2 separate regions of the Homo sapiens genome follow, and region 2 is linked to region 1. The links come from fine-mapping of genetic effects on gene expression. Tissue or cell type: whole blood. Region 1 holds a variant in brackets; the other region holds the start of a gene. All regions are shown on one strand. Distances are between the middles of the regions.

What was found. PIP is the estimated chance that this variant, and not a neighbour inherited with it, causes the effect.
Region 2: CAPN12 starts here. The variant in region 1 is fine-mapped to the expression of CAPN12 in whole blood (INTERVAL, PIP above 0.99). The same link has a PIP of 0.9 or more in thyroid.

The regions. Positions count from the first base shown.
Region 1 is chr19:38,695,780-38,703,779 of GRCh38, forward strand. It overlaps ACTN4 (actinin alpha 4), which reads left to right. Exons shown (of 21, transcript NM_004924.6): 2 at 4,821-4,935; 3 at 5,223-5,342. LOC107985291 (a long non-coding RNA gene) reads right to left here. Exons shown (of 2, transcript XR_001753937.2): 2 at 6,145-6,385. Among named protein-coding and RNA genes, the nearest start is that of CAPN12, 45 kb to the right of the region's middle. RefSeq lists an enhancer at 6,726-7,226. The variant C/T (reference allele first, on the strand shown) is at 3,476.
Region 2 is chr19:38,740,723-38,748,722 of GRCh38, forward strand. It overlaps CAPN12 (calpain 12), which reads right to left and starts at 3,752. Exons shown (of 21, transcript NM_144691.4): 1 at 3,207-3,752; 2 at 2,311-2,380; 3 at 1,688-1,806; 4 at 1,055-1,188. The coding sequence starts at 3,443.

The sequences.
Region 1 (8,000 bases):
TTGAGAATGACTTCTTCAAGGACACCTTTCTGTGTCTGCCTCACCAGTCGCTTGGTGCCCCCCCACCCCGCCACCATGCTGACCGCACTCTTCAGCTCCCATCCCAGGGGAGGTGACACAAACTCGGCCCCAGGAGCCCAGCACCTGGCTTTAAACCCAGCTCTGTAACTTTCTAGGTGTGTGACTGATGGGAGCAAGCCACTTCACCTCTCAGGCCCTCCGTTTCCTCATCTGCAAAATGGAGGCAGTACTAGCACCTCCCTCCAGAGATGATTACGAGGGTGACAGAATTAGTAAGTGACCAAGTGCCTCGAGCAGTGCCCGCCCCTAGTAGACTCTATGGAAGTGTCTGCTGCAGTTATTGCTGTTATTATTACCACTTTTCCTAAGGGCGTTATTTCTGGAGTGGACTGATCGCTTGATTAATGAGATCAGACCTGGAGCCTCATGAGAGTGTCTGCTTTTGCTCACTGTTATGGATTCAGCACAGGGCCTGGCCCTCTGCTGACCCCCAGCATATGCTTGTCCAGAGAATGAATATGTACGGACCCATGGTGGCCTGGGGCATCATGAGGTCGGCTGCCCACATTCTGAGAATTTTGCATGGTGGAGGGCGGCGTGGTGGGCGCATAGGGCCCCCATCTATAGAAACCACCTCTCCACACCATCCACCCCACGCAGCGTAGTCTAAACCGGGTAGGGAGAGGAAGGATGGAAGCAGAGTGTTATTTTTGTAACCAAGTAGAAGAAGCGATGAATTTTTAATGTCCCATTCGAACTCCAGCTCCTACTCACCAGTCTCTCCGCATGGAGAAGTGGCCGTCATGGTCGACCTGTTCCCAAGGGTGGCCTTGTGAGTGCAGGCTCTCCTCACCAGAGCTGAGGGCTTTGTGAACCTCTGATGTCAATAGATGCCCCTCATCTTCCAGGAGGACAAAACAGGGCAAAGCAAGACATGGGGTGAGAACAGGAGTGCATCAGTGGGGTTCCCCAAGCCTGTGTCAGGTCCGGATCTGGGTGGGAGTTCCCTTCTGCGTCATCCAGGCCAGGCGAGTGGGCATCCTCCCTGAGCACCTGTGCTTGGGGCTTTGCCTGTGTCAGTCAGGAAGACAGAGTACACGGAAGAGTTACCATTGCTTTCAGAGCAAACCTTCCTTTGACATGCATTTAACACAGCACGGAGTGATTGACATGTGTCCTTGTGTTTAATCCCTATCTTAACCTCTCGGTTACTGTCCTGTTTATCAGTGAGGAAACTGAGGCTTATTGCTTGCCTGAGGCCTCAGTGGCAGAAGCAAGATGTGAATCCGCACCTGTGTGATGCCCAAGCCAGAGCTCTTGTTTACTACCCAGAGAAGATGAGCACAGGTGGGATGTACGTATGGAGGGCGGGTAGGGCAGCAGCCCCTCTGAGGACAGGTGGCCAGAACCCAAGCGGCGAGGTTTGTTCACAGCCTCCACAGGGTGGGGTGGGGCCATCCGCAGAGGGTCTCCTGCCATCCCATTTTCCCTGCATACCAGTGGGTGGTCTGAGAGCCTTTGCAGAGAAGAGACTGGATCTCAGCACGTGCTTATGTGCGTGTGTACATGCACACACATGCGTGTGATTCATCTGGCTCTTACTTTATGCCAAGGAGCCTGTCACATGCTTTAAATGTATTTTCCCTAGTTTAATTCTTAGAGCACACTGCAGGAGGTAGATTCTGATAAATCCATCTTACAGGGAAGGAAACAGACTTAAGTAGGTAAAGTCACTTGGTTGAAAACATGGAATGAGTAAGCCAAGGGGCAGGTATTCAAACCCAAACCCAGGTCTGTGCCCCTGCAGAGCCTGCAGGAGCAGCCCACACAGGCCAAGGCTGTGAGGGGTGCTGTTTGCACGCGTGCGTGGCCCTCCCTGCAGCCCAGGTGCCTAGGTCTGGGCCTGGCAACACCAGAGCACGGGGCCTTGCCCTCGGGGAACAGCCCTCTTTTGTCCTCAGGCTGTGGGATGTGTCTTGGCTACTTTGCTGCCCAGCAGTGCCTGCTCTCAGGCACATGTGAGAGTAGAGGCCTAGCATCCGTGGCCACTTCCTTCCCAGCCCATTTGCTGCTGCCCTTTGCTCTGCAGGGCTGCTGGGCTCCTGGGCTCCACGCCTGCTTGCTGCCTGCCATCAAGGCTGGCAGTGCTCTGGGGCTGTAAAGGTGCAGGCGCCGTACTTCCCAACCCCTGGAGCTCGCACATGGTAGGAGAGAAAGCTCATGTGCATGCAACATCCAATAAGACTAAAAGTGACTGGGGGTTGCTACGGGAGAGGTGCTGAGGGTGGGCCGGGGACAGAGCAGGCACACTGTGGAGGGGGTGGGCAGGACTCCTGAGACCAGGGCAGGGAGGGAGGAGATGCTGGGAGGCACAGGGCCATCCAGAGAGCTGCCACTTCCTGAGCATTGCCATGCACGCTGCAGGCATGGCCATCTTGAGTCCTCACACTGCCCGTGGCCTAGGTGGGGTCTTCATCCCCACGTTGCAGAGGAGGAAATGGAAGTTAGGAAGGTTAGGTGACGTGCCCACATGAGTGGTGTAAGCATGGTTCCCGCCCTGGGCTCTCTGAATTCAGTATTGTATGGGGGAGGCTGGGAAGGTGAGTTAGTACTCTCCGCAGTGAGAACCTGCCTTGGCTCCCCTCCCCTCAAGGAGTTCATAGCCGTGGGAGGGAGGGAGACAAGAACTGTTGGAGACAAGAACTGTTAGAGACCAGAGAGCAAGGGCGTGATGTGGTCTGCAGGGAGGAGGCTGTCTGAGGCAGAACCGGGTCAGGGAGGCCATGGTGCGGGTACCCTCCAGGCACGGCATTTGGCCTGACTTTTGAGGGGTGCCCAGGGTTGGCTACATGGCGGGGCGGAGGTATCTTTAGTGGGGGAACAGCGTTGTGCCACCAGGAGGGGTCTCTGTCTCCCAGGTAGAGGAATTCTCCATGGTGAGAGGTGGTGGTGGGGGATGGTCTAGCTGTCCACTCTTGCCCCCTTTCGGATTTGGAAGGAAGCCCCATGCTGGGTCCACACTGGTATGGCGTATTAATTAGGCAGCTGCTTTGTCTGGGAGGGGGCTTTGTGTCGAGTCTCCCTGAATGAGCAGGGCTGGCGACAGTTGTCAAAACACATGGTGCTTGGTCAGAGCCCCCGTAGAAGCCCCTTGTCCTCCGCATGGCCTCCGCCTGCACCCGGGGCGTGGAATGTGCTCTTGTGTGTCCCTGGCTGTCTGCTTGCTTCTACACTGGCCCCTGCAGATGGAGGGGGTGGGGTACAGGGGTTCCTATAAGAAGCAGACACTTGGGGTTTTTCCCAGGTCCTGTTGCAGGAGGGTGCGTGGGCTGGTTTCCCTGAAGGCGCCTGGGCGTGTTGGTGTTAACTGATCTGAGATCTTCTGTGGCCCTGATGTCTATGAGCATGCCCCAGCTTGCAGGGGGCTGAGTAGCCGGGCACCACCAGGAGGCTG[C/T]GTGCCCTGTGCTTGGGTGTACCCATGCCCTGTCAGCATCGTTGGTCTGTTAGGGTCAGGGACTTCGGCTTCTTGTTTAGTACCCTCCATCCCTTCCAGTTGATCATCAGAAACATTCTCCTTAGATGCGGCTGCCTGACCCCGGTGAGGGGGCCTGCCTCCCACTTGCCTTCCAGCCTCCTCTAAGCTGCACTGAGTCTTAAAAATAGGAAGGATAGGGCTGGGTGTGGTGGCTCACGCCTGTAATCCCAGCAGTTTGGGAGACCGAGGCGGGTAGATCACTTGAGGCCAGGAGTTCAAGACCAGCCTGGCCAACATGGTAAAACCCCATCTCTACTAAAAAGACAAAAATTAGATGGGCATGTTGGCATACACCCGTAGTCCCAGCTACTCAGGAGGCTGAGGCATGAGAATCGCTTGAACCCAGGAGGTAGAGATTGCAGTGAGCTGAGATTGCGCCACAGCACTCCAGCCTGGGTGACAGAGCGAGACTCCTTCTCAAAAAAAAAAAAAGGAAAAAAAAGAATAGGAAGGATAGGGCATGGCATGTTCTCCAGGAGACAGAGGGACGGGGGCATCTTGCTTGCAGGAAGCCAGGCGACACAGGCGTGTGTGCAGGGCTCAGAGGGTCTGTGTTCCTGGCCTTTCCTGGGAGGGCTTGCTCTTGGGCTGCCCAAAGCTCAAAGAGAGACTCGAGGAAATCCTGCATTTATGGGAGCTTTTCTTTTCCTGCCACTTTCCTGTTCTGGGTTGTATCTGTGCACGTGATTGGAACGTAGCAGCCTGAGCTCCTGCCTGAGGAGAGCAGCCACGGGTCACGGAAGCCAGGGTCCAGCTGGGGCCTTTGGGTCTAGCTGGCAGATGAAGGGCTGGCCTTCATCAAGAAAACAAGCCCCATGAGGGCAGGAGCCCGACCTGTTCATTCCACACCACCGAGCCTGGTGCTCAGTCATGTTTGTGTGACTGAGTGAGCCGGCGGCGGGCTGAGGCGCTTTTGTCTGGTGTGCGTACTGGTCTCCCTTGAGGCAGCTTGGGGGTGTGGAAAAAGCACATGTTGCCAAAATTGACAGACCTGGGTTCAAATCCAAGCTCTGCCACTTACCGCCTGGATGGTCTTGTGATGGGTCATTAACCACCCCGAGCCTCAGTTTCCTCACATCTGCCTCCCGGGGTCACTGTAAGGATCAGAAACAATGTGTGTATCGGCCATGTACGGTGTGTGTCGGCGAGTGCTCCGTGGCAGCTGCGGTTCTCCTGAGGTCAGAGCTGCGGCCCTGCAGGTGTGTGGAGAGAGCCCCGACAGCCAGGCTGACTCTGCGCACTGTCCTTTGTTCTGCTTCCCCAGACCTTCACGGCATGGTGCAACTCCCACCTGCGGAAGGCAGGCACACAGATCGAGAACATTGATGAGGACTTCCGAGACGGGCTCAAGCTCATGCTGCTCCTGGAGGTCATATCAGGTGAGACTCCCAGCCACGCAGTGCGGCCGAGCCCTGGCACAGGTGCTCTGCCACAGCGGTCCCCAGAGACCCTGCCCACCCAGCTGTCCCATTGCTCCTGGGGAGGAGAGGGCACCCCTTAATAGCTGCACGGTGGTCTGATGGGTGGGGCCAGAGTGGCCTGGTGGGCCAGCAGAGGAACCTGCTTTTGGAGAACAGAGGAGACTCTAAAGCCTCTCTCCCTCTCGCCCTCTCTCCCTTTCTCTCTCTCTGTCTCGCCCCCTCTTTTCTCTTTGTGCACTTCTCAGGGGAGCGGTTACCTAAGCCGGAGCGGGGGAAGATGAGAGTGCACAAAATCAACAATGTGAACAAAGCGCTGGACTTTATTGCCAGCAAAGGCGTCAAGCTGGTCTCCATCGGGGCAGAAGGTGAGCTGGAGGTGGGGCAGCGAGGGTCCTGCTCGGTTTCTGACCTTTAGGCTCTGAAGCACAACATCTGCATCCTGAAGAGAAGTTTTGTTGGTGGCAGGGCGCTTGGGGCACTCAGAGCCCCAGTACATACTCAGCAGTGATCACAACAACTGCTCTTGATATGATGCTGGGCCCACAAGCTCCCCCAAACCCTTGGAAAAATCCGGTGGGCGCAGTCCAAATCTAGGAAGTGCAACCCACCCAACCACGGGGGCGACGGCTTCTGCAGGGGGAGGAATGGTTTTGACTCGGACTCAGGTCGCCCTCACTGGTTCTCCTTGTGCCAGGCTCAGCAGACAGTGACAAACATGTGCCATGGCCTCTCTCTGTACCAGGAACACCTTTCTCATTATGCCCTGCCCGGTATCAGAGAAGGACTGGAGGCCCCATGTCAGGCATTGGGACAGGGAGTGCACGGCCAAAGGTCAGTGCCTAGACTTTGCCCTGTGTGCATGGGCTTGGAGAATTTTGCCTCTGACCACCCCAGGATCCTCCTGGGCCCCACGTAGATAACCAGGACCACAGTCCACTACCTGCAGGCCCTCACTAGAGCAGCAGGCTCTCAGCAGGGGCCCCTGGGTTGAGCTCCCAGGCGCTTTTAGAGACAGGCGAGGCCTGATGGAGCCCCAGCAGCATGAGCTCGCAGTCCACTCATTAGTCAGAGTAAGATTTCTTCACCCTGACATCCATGTTGTCCCAGCTTCTAGAAAAACAAAGTAAACTAATTGCCGTTAATGACAGGGCTCTGAGAGTTTGGCCAAGACTCCGGGCCAGAATGTGTGTGCTGAGTTCCAAGGCTCTGCCCCGGCCCAGGACCTCTGCGATGAGGGGTGCCAAGCCTTGCATGCCACAGTCGAGGTGGTTGGTGTTTGTTTAAAAAAATCACAACCCAAAAATTCAGTCAGGCCCTGAGATTTTCTGTCCTTGCATGGGTCTTTCCTCCAGGCTCTGTTCCAGCCTTCTGCTTCTCACAGCTGCATTTATTTTGCTCAAATGCTAGTCTGTAAATACAGAAGGGGTTAGAGGAGAGACCCATGTCAGTCATCAGTTTTCATTTGGAGAAAAACTTGGTCTAAAAATGTTCTCTGTTCATGCCCAAATTGGTTCACTCCCAATCCCTGTGACTGTGGGGCCTTGGAACAAAGCCTAATGGAGGCGTTCCTGGGGCTCAAGGCACCTGAGAACCCCGCCCCACCCTGTCCCCCTGTCCTTCCACATGATTGGGCATTCGCGGGAGCATTGGCTTCCCGTGGGGGTGATGAGAGGGGCCGGAGGCACAGCTGCAGGTCAGAGAAGCAGCTGGTGGATGTGTCATGAGAAACGCCATCCTCCTCTCCTCACCGGAACTCCATAAGCCCTCCGTTACCAGCTGCACCTGTACTTGCTGAGCCGGGGAGCTGCGGCCTTGCCCAGCTCTGCAGGCCCGGCCCTCAGGAGGTGCACAGAATAGATTTCCTGAGGCTCGAGCTGCCTCGCTGCACTAAGGGGCAGGTGGTGCTGCTCAGTTTCTGGGTCTGGGGCTCTGAACCCTAGGACAGGGTGGACACTGGGTCCCTCCCCTGTCTCTGGGCAGCAGAATGAGCATATTTCCTCCTCTCAAAACCCGAAAGCTGTGGCTCATGGACACCCCCTTCCTCTGGGTGTGTCCCCGGGGGAAGGTGAGCCCCATCTTCTCTGTGACCTCTCCACCTGCTTCCAAGCAAGCCTGCCCTGGAGTATTCTGCTCAGAGGTCAGTGAGCAGGGTCTCCTGTGGTGTCCTGGGCCTCCAGCTCTGCAGTTAGCTTTGGAACTCACCCCTGTGCCCAGCCCTTCCCCGAGAGTGCTTGCAGCAGTGGCGCCCCTCTGTCTTCTTTGGAAGCCACTCCATCATGCCCCTTGCATATGGCGTGTTGACAAGTTGGGAGGACTGCCCTAGGCACGGCTGGCTGATGGACTCTGGGATGAGGCACTGCCTTCTCTCACCCAGCCGCAGACACACAGCTGTCCTGGGCCTTGCAGAGATGATTTTTCTCTTAAGTTACTGAGGCTGAAGAAGGTGTGGTCCAAGCCCTTCTTTTGAGAAGTTTCAGCAATTTTTTTTTTTTTTTTTTTGAGATGGAATCTCACTCTTGTCACCTAGGCTGGAGTGCAATGGTGCAATCTCAGCTCACTGCAACCTCTGCCTCCCGGGCTCAAGCAATTCTCCTGCCTCAGCCTCCAGAGTAGCTGGGATTACAAGCACCCGCCACCACGCCAGGCTAATTTTGTGTTTTTAGTAGAGACGGGGCTTCACCATCTTGGCCGGGCTGGTCTCGAACTCCTGACCTCAGGCGATCCACACCTGCCTCAGCCTCCCAAATTGCTGGGACTAAACAGGCGTGAGCCACCACAGCCGGCCGCAAATGTTTGTTTTTAGGTTAGTTCAGAAAGCGTGCAGTCTGGCCTCAGGCCCGTGCTCTCCCCTTCCTGACAACACAGCAGCCATGCTTGTTCCTCACTGGCCTTCCAGGCACTGGATCCAGTGGTGGTCAGAGCAGCCCCGCCCTCACGAGGGCAGGCAGACAGTGAACAAGTAAACAGCCCGACCAACATGTGATTTCACTAGTGATGCCTTGGGGCAGCACAGGGGCCAGGGA
Region 2 (8,000 bases), 45 kb after region 1:
TCGGGAGGCGAAGGTTGCAGTGAGCCAAGATCACGCCATTGCACTGTAGCCTGGGCAACAAGAGTGAAACTCCATCTCAAAAAAAAAAAAAAAATTCAGACTCTTGACGGGGGGAACTGTGGCACATACAGAAGCCCTTGGAGATTGGGCCTGTGGTCCTTGGGGTGACCAGGACTTCGGTTTGGTGGGGGGCATGGGAGAGCTGTGTTAGAATTCTGAGAGTCCTGGTGCTGTCTGAAACCTTGAACCTCTGGTAGATGTCCGCTTTGGGGGATCATCCCTATGGGGGCTTGTCAGGAATTTCAGAGCCTCAGAATGGGGAAAAGGCAAAGATTTGAGGGTCCCAGGGTGACCCCCAATATTTTGGGGGTGCTTTAGATTTCTCAATGGACCAGGAGAGACAATCTAAGATATACAGCTCACCCGAGGGGATAAATCCCAGATTTGGTGAATCCAGGGCCTGATATATGAGATTTCAGGATCCTTAAGAATTATGAGTGACTGGGGGTCTCCAGGAATGTTTTGTGTGAAATATTGATGGAGAGAGGGGTTTAAGATTTGAAGGTACAGCTGAGCACAGTGGCTCACACCTGTAATCCCAGTACTTTGGGAGGCCAAGGAAGGTGGATCACCTGAGATCAGGAGTTGGAGACCAGCCTGACCAACATGGTGAAACCCCATCTCTACTAAAAATATAAAAATTAGCCAGGCATGGTGGTGCGCTCCTGTAATCCCAGCTAGTCGGGAGGCTGAGACAGGAGAATCGCTGGAACCTGGGAGGCAGAGGTTGCAGTGAGCCAAGATCGCGCTACTGCACTCCAGCCTGGGCGACAGAGTGAGTGAGACTCCGTCTCAAAAAAAAAGAAAAAAAAAAAAAACATGAAGTTGCTCAGGTGATGTTGTGATATGAGGGTTCTGGCGGTTGTCACTTGGTTTGGGATTCTTGGTGGGGTGTTTGGAGGATTGCAGAGCTTGGGGGACTCTGGGTCCCCCTGTGGCTTGATGCCTGCTGTGGGGACTTAGGGCTGCAGCTGGTTGGAACTGGGGTCCTCACTTGGCGTAGGCCTTCTCCAGGAGTGGGGCCCAGAACTCATTCCGCTGTTCCGAGCGCACGAACATCAGCTTCCCCTCACGCACGGGCAGCCTGTCATCCACCACGACGTCCATCCAGCGGCCAAACTGCCAGAGCTGGTGGGAGAAGATGCAGGGCCGGACTCGGCTTCCAACCTCCAACCCTGCCTGGGCCCTGCCTCTGCTGTGCCAGTCCCAGAGTCAGGAATTACAGCCCCAAGTCAACGTTAACTATGAAATCCATATGGCTGGCCGGGTGCGGTGGCTCACATCTGTAATCCCAGCACTTTGGGAGGCCGAGGCGGATGGATCACGAGGTCAGGAATTCGAGACCAGCCTGGCTAAGATGGTGAAATACCATCTCTACTAAAAATAAGAAAAAATTAGCTGGGCATGATGGCGGGTGCCTGTAATCCCAGCTACTCAGGAGGCTGAGGCAGAGAATTGCTTGAACCTGGGGGCGGGGCGAAGGTTGCAGTGAGCCGAGATTGTGCCACTGCACTCCAGCCTGGATGACAGAGTGAGATTCCATCTCAAAAAAAAAAAAAAAGAAAAATCCATATCACCAAGTCACCATGGGGGAAACGGAGGCATGGGCAGAGGAACTGAGCTGTACCTGGAAGTGGAAGACGCCTGCGTAGCCATGCTGGAAATCCTGTCCAGGAGGGACCACCCGGCGCAGGAGCCGGGGATACAGAGTAAGGGAGGCGGCAGCTGCAAGGAACCAGCAGTTACCTGGGAGGAGAGGCCAGGATTAGGTGAGGATGGAAGGAGGGAGGCCTGGTGCGGTGGCTCATGCCTCTAATCCCAGCACTTTGGGAGGCCAAGGCAGAAAGATCACGTGAGCCTAGGAGTTCAAGACCAGCCTGGCCAACATGGCAAGACTCCACTACAAGAAAATTTAAAAATTAGCTGGGCATGGTGGCATGCACCTGTAGTCCCAGCTACTTGGGAGGCTGAGGCAGGAAGATTGCTTGAGTCCAGGAGGTTAAGGCTGCAGTGAGCTATGATGGTGCCACTGTATTCCAGAATGGGTGACAGAGTGAGACCCCATCTCAAAAAAAAAAAAAAAAAAAAAAGGAAGGAAGGAAGGAGGGAGGAGGGAGAGAGAGGCCTAGGGAGAGAAGAGACTGAGGAGGGATCCAGGGGCCGGGAGTGGGTGGACAAAGGGATGGAGCTGTCAGGATCTCAGCTGAAACTAGCTGGATCTGAGGACTCCAGGTGGGTTCAGGGTCTCACCCAGGCTCCCCTGACACACGTCTGTGCGGCTCATGTCTTCACAGATGAACTTCGGCTCAGCACAGAACTCCTGTGGGTGGTGGGGGATTCCAGGCCTCAGCCTGAGAAAGCGAGGAAAGGTCTCATCCAGAGGAGTGAGGGCCTCCAAGCCCATGAAAGGCCTGGAAGCCTGTGGGCAGGAGCATGGCTTCCCTGGGTCTCCAGAAGTTGTGCTGAGCCAGTCCCATGGTAGCCCCCTCCTCCCTCAGACCCGGGAGTCCAGGCCCAGCCCCTCCTCCCTCAGACCCAGGAGTCCATGTCCCGAGCCCCTCCTCCCTCAGACCCAGGAGTCCAGGCCCAGCCCCTCCTCCCTCAGACCCAGGAGTCCAGGTCCCGAGCCCCTCCTCCCTCAGACCCAGGAGTCCAGGCCCAGCCCCTCCTCCCTCAGACCCAGGAGTCCAGGTCCCGAGCCCCTCCTCCCTCAGACCCAAGAATCCAGGTCCCCAGCCCCTCCTCCCTCAGACCCAGGAGTCCAGGTCCAGCCCCTCCTCCCTCAGACCCCGGAGTCCAGGTCCCCAGCCCCCTCTTCCCTCAGACCCAGGTGTCCAGGCCTTGGCCTCTCCTCCCTCAGATCCAGAAGTCCAGGTCCAAGCCCCCTCCTCCCTCAGACCCAGGAGTCCAGGTCCCCAGCCCCTCCTCCCTCAGACCCAAGAGTCCAGGCCCAGCCCTTCCTCCCTCAGACCCAGGAGTCCAGGCCCAGCCCCTCCTCCCTCAGACCTAAGAGTCCAGGTCTCGAGCCCCTCCTCCCTCAGACCAGGGAGTCCAGGCCCCCAGCCTTCCTTCCTCAGACCCAGGAGTCCATGCCTCCAGCCCCTCCTCCCTCAGACCCCAGAGCCCAGACCCCAGCCACACTTTACATGGGGCCTCATCCATTTCACGCCTTTGGCCTTCTCCGAGTCCGGCCCCAGCTGGTCATAGCCAAGGGCATCAGGGCCAGCAGGGAAGTAAGGGTCGCGGAACAGGATCCCCGAATCCAGGCAGGCTGCCCGAATTGCCTCATAGCTCTGGCCCCGAAAAAGCTGCAGGCGCCCGGCTCCGACCCCAGCCTCCTCATCCACGAGCTGGATGGTGACCCTCCCACTGCTGGATGCCATCTGGACACTGGCCTCACAAGCCGGCACCAGGCCCTTTAACCTCCTGAGTCACGGGGGCGGGGCCTCTCTTCCATTGGAGCCCCAGTGGGGTCTTTAGGCAATGAGGAGCCTTCCCTCGTTAATATTAATTGATGGTTTGGGGTGCTGGGGAGCAGGGACGCCTCTTCAGTAGCTTTCTTCCCAGGGCGTGGGGCCTTCAGTTGTGGCCAAGGTAGCAGCTTAATGGGCTTGGCCAGCAGCAGGAGAGAAGGCGGGCAGAGCTGAGGGAGGACCGGCTGCCGCTGTCAGAGCACCAAGAAGGAGGTCAGTGTGGGGGTGAGCTTCTGCCTACTTATGCCTGTGGGGCTGGGGAAGGAGGCGGGTTTACCTCGGTGTCTCTATCTCTCAGACTGCCTCTCTCCCCCTCCCTCTGACAGTTTCTCTCTCCCCGCCTTCATGTTTCTTCTCCATCAGTTTCTGGAGTGCAGTGGCACGATCTCAGCTCACTGCAACCTCCGCCTTCTAGGTTCAAGTGATTCTCCTGCCTCAGCCTCCCAAGTAGCTGGGATTACAGGCTCGTGTCACCATGCCCAGCTAATTTTTGTATTTTTTGTTAGAGAAGGGATTTTACCATGTTGACCAGGCTGGTCTTGAACTCCTGGCCTCAAGCAATCCGCCCACCTTGGCCTCCCAAAGTGCTGGGATTACAGACGTGAGCCACTGTGCCTGGTCAGGTTTTGTTAATTAAAAAAAATTTTTTTTAAAGTAGAGACAGAGGGGTGGCGGGGGGCGGTCCCATATGTTCCCCAGGCTGGTCTTGAACTGCTGGCCTCAAGTGATCCTCCTGCTTCAGCAGCCTCCCAGAGAGCTGGGATTACAGATGTGAGCTACTGTGCCTGGCCCTTTCTTGTTTTTTGTTTCTGGCAATATTTGTGTCTCTGTATTTCCCCAACTCCACCCCTCTCCCCACCCCACCCTCTTTTTTTTTTTTTTTTTTTTTTTGTAGAGATGGGGCGGGGATCTCACTTTGTTGCCCAGACTGGTCTCGAACTCCTGGGCTCAAGTGATCCTCCCCGCTTGGCCTCCCAAAGTGTTGGGATTACAGGCGTGAATCACTATGCCTGTCCCCTCTCTCTTTGTGTCTCTTTCAGCGTGTGTCTGTTCCTCTCTGTACCTGTCAGACCCAGGAGTCCAGGCCCCCAGCCCCTCCTCCTTCAGACCCTGTCAGTGTACCTTGTGTCTGCCTCCCTGTCTCTTCCTCTCCATCTTTCTGTCTGTCCCTGTAACCCATATGTGGCTCCTCCATCATCCACCGAGGGACCCTGAGCTCCCCTCCGCTCACGCCCCCTAAGCCCTCAGGATGCGCCTCCTCCCCTCCCGGACAAGGTAGACTCAGCCTGCTTGCCCAGGGAGGCTGACCCTGGAGGGATGGCTCTGTACCTCTCCTGTGCTGGGAGCCATCTGGTGACCATGATGCCCTGCCCTGGCCCACGCCACTCAGAGTCTGGATGGAGCAGTATTTCCCCCAAAGGACTCTGGAGCCATTGGAGGAAATGGGAGAAACAGGTACGGAGATGCCAGAGCCTCAGCAGTGCTGGTCCCAGCAGACCTTCCACCCTCGTTGAGGGTGTCTGCTGCCCTCCCAGAGCCTTGTCACCTCCACGCCACTCAGATGTCCCTCAAGCCTTTTGGCCTTCTTCCCTCCAAGTGGACCCACAAATATTGTCCAAGCCACCCACGTACACGGCTACCAAAAGTGGGTTACAAAACAGGCTTTCTGGCTGGGCGTGGTGGCTCATGCCTGTAATCCCAGCACTTTGGGAGGCCGAGGCAGGCAGATCACCTGAGGTCAGGAGTTCGAGACCAGCCAGGCCAATGTAGTGAAACTCCGTCTCTACTAAAATACAAAAATTAGCCGGACATAGTTGCGGGCACCTGTAATCCCAGCTACTCAGAAGGCTGAGGCAGGAGAACCGCTTGAATCTGGGAGGCGGAGGTTGCAGTGAGCCGAGATTGTGCCACTGCACTCCAGCCTGGGCAACAGGGCAAGACTGCATCTCAAAAAACCCCCCAAAACAGGGCCGGGCATGGTGGCTCATGCCCGTAATCCCAGCACTTTGGGAGGCTGAGGTGGGCAGAACACTTGAGGCCAGGAGTTCAAGACCAGCCTGGCCAACATGGTGAAACACCATCTCTATTAAAAATACAAAAATTAGGCTGGACGCGGTAGTTTACTACGCCTGTAATCCCAGCACTTTGGGAGGCCGAGACGGGCGGGTCAGGAGTTCCAGACCAGCCTGGCCAACATGGTGAAACCCCATCTCTACTAAAAAATACAAAAAAATTAGCTGGGTGTGGTGGCACGCACCTGTAATCCCAGCTACTCAGGAGGCTGAGGTAGGAGAATCGCTTGAACCCGAGAGGTGGAGGTTTCAGTGAGCCAAGACTGCACCACTGCACTCCAGCCTCGGCAAGAGAGCAAAACTCCATCTCAAAAAAAAAAAAAAAAAGGCCGGGCACGGTGGCTCAAGCCTGTAATCCCAGCAGCACTTTGGGAGGCCAAAGCAGGCAGATCACGAGGTCAGGAGATCAAGACCATCCTGGCTAACACGGTGAAACCCCATCTCTACTACAAAAAATACAAAAAATTAGCCAGGCATGGTGGCGGCCACCTGTAGTCCCAGCTACTCGGGAGGCTGAGGCAGGAGAATGACGTGGACCCAGGAGGCGAAGCTTGCAGTGAGCCGCCACTGCACTCCAGCCTGGTTGACAGAGCAAGACTCTGTCTCAAAAAAAAAAAAAAAAAAAAAAATTAGCTGGGCATGGTGGTACACACCTGTAATCCCAGCTACTCAGGAGGGTGAGGCAGGAGAATCGCTTGAACCTGGGAGGCGGAGGTTGCAGTGAGCCAAGATCACGCCACTGCACTCCAGCCTGGGTGAGAGAGTGAGACTCCATCTCAAAAAAAAAAAAAAAAAAGTTTTCTTCGTGTAGGATTGCCAAGCCCACCCCAGCCCCACGGGAGTCATATGGGAGTGCTTCCAGCCTGCCGGGATTAGGAGCCACAGCACCTGGGGTCCAATCCCAGCTCTGCCACCTACACCTGTGTGTCTTTGGGCACATCACTTAACTTCTCTGTGCTTCAGTTTCCTCATCTCTGCAATGCGGATGATGATAGGGCGTACCTCGGAGGGTTGCTGTGGGAAGCGAATGAGTTCGTACGTGGGATGAGTTCAGAGAAGTGCCTGACACAGAGTCGCTGCTCACTGCACGAGGCATTGACCATGCCTTGGCGTTCAAGAGTGTCTGCTGCCCTCCCAGAGCCTTGTCACCTCCATGCCACTCAGATGTCCCTCAAGCCTTCTGGCCTCCTTCCCTCCAAGTGGACCCACAGATATTGTCCAAGCTGCCTACGTACATGGCTACCAAAAGTGGGTTACAAAACGAGCTTTCTGGCTGGGCGTGGTGGGTCACGCCTGTAATCCCAGCACTTTGGGAGGCCGAGGTGGGCGGCCTCGGCCATCCACAGTCAACCTGTCTCCTTGGATCTGGGCTGCTGTTTCTTTCACTTGTTTGTTGGTTTATTTTTTGGGACAGTCTCGCCTCGTCACCCAGGCTGGAGTGCAGTGGCGTGATCTTGGCTCACTACAACCTCCGCCTCCCAGGTTCAAGTGATTCTCCTGCCTCAGCCTCCCGAGTAGCTAGAATTACAGGCATGTGCCACCACGGCTGGCTAATTTTTGTATTTTTAGTAGAGACAGGGTTTCACCATATTGGTCAGGCTGGTCTTGAAAGCCTCACTTCAGGTGATCCACCCGCCTTGGCCTCCAAAAGTGCTGGGATTACAGACAGGAGCCACCGCGCCATGTCTTACTGTTTCTTTTTTTGTATTGTTTTGTTTTGTTTCTGAGACAGGGTCTGACTCTGTTGCCCAGGCTGGAGTGCAGTGGCACAATCTTGGCTCACTGCAGCCTTGACCTCCCGGGCTCAAGCAATCCTCCTGCCTCAGCTTCCTGAGTAGCTGGGACCACAGGCTTGTGCCACCATACCCAGCAAATTTTTAGACTTTTTGGTGGAATGGAGTCTCACTTTGTTGCCAGGGCTGGTCTTGAATCCCTGAGCTCAAGCAAACTTCCCATGTCAGCTTCCCAAAGTGCTAGGATTATAGGCCTGACCCACTGCACCTGGCCAGATGTACAACTTTCAAACCACTGAAGTAGCTTAAAATGAAAGGAAAAGAAAATGTAATCTATTTGGCAATGGTCGAAAAGCAAAGGAAAATGCAGCGAATCATAGAAAATAAAAGCAAAAAGCATCACACAATGACCTAAATAAAACCAAGCATATCAGTTATAACAACATTATGCAAATGTGTGAAACGTACTTGGGAACATCAACAAACAAAATTCAACTGTTTAGCTTTCAAAACACTTTCCAAAGATAACACCACCAAGTTTTAAAATAAAAGGATTAGAAATAGCTATCAGTCAAAAGCAGATACACAAAAATCAGGGCAAATCTGATATTAGAGAAAACCGGATTTAAAGCAGATAGCATTACTTTGGACAAAAGGAGTTA